Linked DNA regions of Homo sapiens: region 1 is linked to region 2. The links come from fine-mapping of genetic effects on gene expression. Tissue or cell type: whole blood. Region 2 holds a variant in brackets; the other region holds the start of a gene. All regions are shown on one strand. Distances are between the middles of the regions.

Region 1 (2,683 bases), 64 kb before region 2:
GAGCCGGGCGCGATGCCTCATGCCTGTAATCACAGCACTTTGGGAGGCCGAGGCGGGCAGATCACCAGGTCAGGAGATCGAGACCATTCTGGCTAACACAGTGAAATCCCGTCTCTACTAAAAATACAAAAAATTAGCCGGGCGTGGTAGTGGGCACCTGTAGTCCCTACTCAGGAGGCTGATGCTAGAGAATCGCTTGAACCCAGGAGGCAGAGGTTGCAGTGAGCTGAGATCCCGCCACTGCACTCCAGCCTGGGCAACAGAGCAAGACTCCATCTAAAATAAATAAATAAATAAATAAATAAATAATAAATAAAATTTACAAAAAATAAGCTACCTTAAGAGATGGAAGAAAAACAATCTGACCCTTAGCTGGTTCCTTCATTTAGGTACCAAACCGGCCAGATAGGTGAGGCTAGAGAATGGGATGGGGACTCCAAAATTGGGGTATTTGAATTTTCATTGAGAAAAGGGCTCTCCCTTTTCTAGATCAAAAAGTCTCAACGACAAAGACAGGAGGCAGAGTCAGCCTTTGTCCCCCATGCCCAGACCTGGGAAAGCTGGCTATGGACAGGAGGGAGCTGGAAGCTGAGGATGTCTCTGGGGATGAGGGTAAGGGAAGGGGGTGGGGGTGGCCAGAGGTGTGCCAGAGGGTAAACGGCACCCGTGGCTTTTTTACCTGTGGGCATCTTTTGGTTGCTGATGTGCTGCAGGTCTTGGCCCTCCGTGGCTCCCACATCCAGCTTGCCAGGCTCTACAGTAGTGGATTCTGATGTTGCAGCAGCCACAGTCTCATAAATATCAGTATCAGATTCATAACAGGGTGCGTCCTTCCCCCTGGGCCAGCCACAGTGGGAGTTGATACAACAGGTCAGTATATTCCCCATGGGGCCTCTCCATGCCTCTCCACTCCTGCCTCAGCCTTCAGCGAAATTGTAACTGTGCTGCCCTAGCAGCCACACTACTGAGGGTGGCCCTGCACTTTTAGAAGCAGCCTGACCCCAGGCAGATCTGGGTCCTCAGCCCTTATTCTGCCGCCACCTCCCAAACTAGCTGGTCTATGAGGTCAGGGACCTGCTGTCTTCTTTGAAAAATAAACGAACATGACAAGCACCCAAAGGTGCAAAAACTGCCATCAAAGAGCACAGTTGGAGCTCCTCCTCCCTCCACTGCGAGCTACTGACTGAGGGCTGCTGGCCCTGGCTGATGCTTATAACCCACAAAGCTTCCTATGTCACCTGGTTACCAGGAAACAGCCAGGTCAGGCTAGTGACTCACAATGTCCAGCCCCACAGCCCCCCCCAATGCCTCATAATGCCTGTCCCTGCTGCTGCCCACCTTGTGGCCCCCCTGCCCCTCTGTGGGGACTGCACTACTCAGGCTTTTATTCACCCTATGCTGCCTGAGCTTTCCAGTCCTGAGCTAAGTGCAGGGGGAGTTGTTATTGCGAGTCACCCTTGGCAAGAAACTCAATAGAAAACCCTGGTATGGCCGGGAGTGGTGGCTCACGCCTGTAATCCTAGCACTTTGGGAGGCTGAGCGGGGGGGGTGGATCACTTGAGGTCAGGAGTTCAAGACCAGCCTGGCCAACATGGTGAAAACTTGTCTCTACTAAAAATACAAAATATTAGCTCGGCCTGGTGGCGGGCACCTGCAATCCTAGCTACTCAGGAGGCTGAGGCAGGAGAATCGCTTGAATCCAGGAGGCGGAGGTTGCACAGTGAGCCAAGATCACACCATTGCACTCCAGCCTGGGTGACAAAGGTGCAACTGTCTTTAAAAAAAAAAAAAAAAAAGAAACAAAAGAAAGAAAACCCCAGTTACTAAAGTCAGTTCCACCAGCAGTTCTGTTTTTCTGAGTCTGACAGCTTTCATTTGCTCACCAAATGTAGTTATACACAAATTTTTTACTGCTTTTCTAATTAAATGCTTCTCTCCTGTCTTACAAGTGTTAGTTCTTGTCTGCAACTTGACCATAGCTACCCCCAGGGCCCTGGTCCCACTCTCAATAGAGAGTTATGGCTGTGTATCCTCAGTGAAACCCTGGGACACATCACACTTCCCTCCTCGTCTATAAAATAGGGACTGAACACATCCTTCCCAGTTCTGTAATGCTACGACCTACCAACTCCCTTTTCTCGCTCTGTTTCTTCTTTCCATGGCAGGGGTATTCAGATATTTCTTTTATTTACTTATTTATTTATTTTTTGAGATGGACTATTGCTCTGTCGACCAGGCTGGAGTGCAGTGGCACGATCTCGGCTCACTGTAACCTCCACCTCCCAGGTTCAAGCGATTCTCCAGCCTCAGCCTCCTGAGTAGCCTGGACTACAGGCACACGCCACCGCATCTGGCTAATTTTTGTATTTCTAGTAGAGACGAGGGTTTCACCATGTTGGTCAGGCTGGTCTTGAACTCATCTCAGGTGATCCACCCGCCTCGTCCTCCCAAAGTGCTGGGATTACAGGCATGAACCACCATGCCCAGCCTCAGGTATTTCTTTTACTAACAAATCATAAAACATTATTTTCTTATACAAAATTGAGAACCCCACAGTGGGGTACCATTGTCCTCATAGGACAAAGACAAATAGTCAATATCTGGCAAGCATTATGTGCCTGACAGTGTTCCAACTGTGGCATACTAATTTAACCCTCAGAAATAGTCCCATTTTACACATCTT
Region 2 (2,683 bases):
TGGCAATGGCTGCTGGGCTGCTGGGCTGCTGAGCAGGGGTGATGAGCTGCAGCATTAGCAGGGCTCTGGCTCCCATGCTGGTCCATGCTGCTGGCATGGAGCTTCCTCCAGGCTGGAGGGTGATCATGGTAGGTGGGACTTCCTTCCTTCCTCAAACCGGCCAGCAATTCCTCAGGAAGCCAGGCCTCTGCTGCTGCTGCTGCTGCTGCTGCTGCTGCTGCTGCTGTCTGCAGCACACCTCCATGGGCAGGGGGCCTTGGCCTGCACTGGGGGAGAGGGGGAACAACAACAGAGGAAGCTCATGTGGCAGGGAGTCCAGTAACTGCCCAGCTTTGGGTACCAATGGGCATACTGGGGACAGACGTAGCTGTTTGCTGGGACTCCCCACTCTGCCCTTTGCAGACACCCAAAAACGGTCATGTCAGAGGATTCTCACCGGTTAGCAGCGACGCATGCTCATGACAAGTATCTGGGGGATTCATACATTGCTAGGGGATCCTCCCTGACCAGATCTCAGAATCGTCCATGCAAATGAGAAGGCAACATGTCACCCCACCCAGGACTCTGGAAAACCCTGCCATTGCAGTCAGAGATGGCGCATCAGGAGGCTACTTCCTCAGTGGAGAAAGAGAGAGTTCCGTGCACGGAACTCCCCTGGGGGATCATTGGCGAGGCGAAGCCTTTGGCATGGCTCAAACCCAGTTTGCGTGGCAGAGATTCCAGTGGGGCTGGGATAGGCAGGTGCCACTTAACCAGGTCTCCTAAAATGCCCTGTCCCTTTCCCATCACGACTGTATGTGGCTGGAGACCTAGACACTCAAAGACTCCAGAGAACACGACCCTGATGGGTGGTGGTGCTGGGATGTGAGCTGAAGGCAGCCGAGACGGAGCCTCCAGGAGCAGAAGGAGGCGTCCTCTCTTTGGGGGCCCTGGGGAGCCACTGCCCGCTCTGGGCCTCTGTTTCCTCATCTGGAAAATGAAGGGATGCTGAGCCTGTAGTGCAGGCCTCACAGGGTAGAAATGAAGTTCAAGAAAAGAAAGCAATTTGAGGG[T/C]GCTCGTGCCTGGTTCTTCCTCAGAGGGATGACGGTGAGAACAACGGCAACAGCTACAGGAAACTGAGCCCTCAGAGGCCCTGTGAGGTAGCTGTGGTTTGCATCACTCTTTACAGAAGAGGAAACAGTCTCAGGGAGGCCCGGCTGCAAGACTGGGTGACACACACAGGGAGTGTGGATCTGGGCCAGTGGTATGAGCACGGTGCCAGGTGGCTCCCGCCACTCCCTGGGGATCCAAGTGCGGGGTGGCTGGGGTGTAACTGGGGGAGAGGAGGAGAGCCTCACTGTCCCTGTCGCTGACACCTGGCAGGCGGGGAGCTTTAAGGTGGCCACCCAGGAGAGGAACCCCCAGAGAGTCCAGATGAGGCTGCGGAGGCAGAAGAAGGTGAGTGAGCCTGTGGCATGGACGGGCCGCAGGGGATCAGAGGACAGGGCTCCCTTCCCCGCCAGCTGGAGGCCTCCATATCAAGACAGCGGGGGCTTCCTCCCCAGCCCTGTCCTCCTGTGGCCACTGGGCCTGGAAAACCTTCATTTGAGAGACCAGAGGAAGGGTCTGGGAAAGCTGGACTCAGACTAGATGTGGGGAAGGGTAAAGCTGGGACCACAGGCCTTTGTGACTTGTTAAAATCCCACCATAGAGGTTAACAAGGAGTGCTTGCTAGACTTGGAGGTCAGCTGGGATACAGGAGGCAGAGAATTGGGAAAGGCAGCTGAGGGTCTTTGGCTGCTCCAACCGGGAGACCTGAGGAGGGGGCTCTGGGAGACAGGGGCTGATGGGATTTCATGGGACAGGACCTTGGGCAGGCACCTGAGGGCCAATACTCATCACCACTACCCCTCCCACCTCCCCACCCCTCCTTGGCACAGGGTGTGGTCCCCTTCCTGGGGGATTTTCTGACTGAGTTACAGAGGCTGGATTCGGCCATCCCGGACGACCTGGATGTGAGTGAGCCTGGGGCAGGGTGCTTGGGAACCAAGATCCTGAAGCTTGGGAGGAGAGGGTCCTGGACCGAGCCTTTAGATCTCAGCCCTTGGCAAACCTCCTCTCCTAAGAGCCTCACAGCTGCTCCTGTGGGTGGGGGTGTCAGGCCCATCTCATCACCTCTGAGTGATGGAGGCTCCATGGCAGCCACCAGGCCCTATTCCTGAGTGGTGAAGCTGCAGAGCTGCCTGACTGCAAAGCTGCTGAGGTGTGGGCTGAACTGGGCTCAGCTTCTCCCTAGGGTAGTCCCGTAATAGGAGGGTGAAATTGAGCCTCTCCAAGGGCAGGCAGTTCCAAGGTCACTGAGCGCTTTCTTTCTATGAGAGACCTCAGTTTCCCTGTCTGTCATCACAGAGGGTTGGGGCAGAAGGTCCCTGGGCCTCAGCTCCCATTCCCCCTGCTCTAGAGCCCGGAGCCTGAGGCAGGTCCAAGTCCTGTCGTGTGCACATCCCCTGACCCTGGTGGCCCTGGCAGTAGTGCAGCATGGGAAGGGGTGGGGTGGGGCTGGTTGTGGGCCAGGGGCCTTTCTGATGGACTCTGTCTGCCTTCCAGGGCAACACCAACAAGAGGAGCAAGGTGAGCAGCTGGGGCACTCACGTTGGATGAGGGTGGGGATGTGGACGTCACAGTCCACCCTGGGCAGGACACT

The links. PIP is the estimated chance that this variant, and not a neighbour inherited with it, causes the effect.
Region 1: it holds the start of DRICH1, and the variant in region 2 is fine-mapped to the expression of DRICH1 in whole blood (TOPMed, PIP above 0.99).

Annotation. Positions count from the first base shown.
Region 1 is chr22:23,631,137-23,633,819 of GRCh38, forward strand. DRICH1 (aspartate rich 1) reads right to left here and starts at 1,185. Exons shown (of 12, transcript NM_016449.4): 1 at 680-1,185. The coding sequence starts at 887. LOC124905089 (a long non-coding RNA gene) reads right to left here. Exons shown (of 3, transcript XR_007068021.1): 3 at 1,740-1,774. RefSeq lists a silencer at 2,224-2,361.
Region 2 is chr22:23,695,252-23,697,934 of GRCh38, forward strand. RGL4 (ral guanine nucleotide dissociation stimulator like 4) reads left to right here. Exons shown (of 11, transcript NM_153615.2): 7 at 1,363-1,437; 8 at 1,920-1,994; 9 at 2,587-2,610. It also overlaps the pseudogene GUSBP11. Among named protein-coding and RNA genes, the nearest start is that of RGL4, 5.6 kb to the left of the region's middle. RefSeq lists enhancers at 169-669, 1,404-1,483. The variant T/C (reference allele first, on the strand shown) is at 1,053.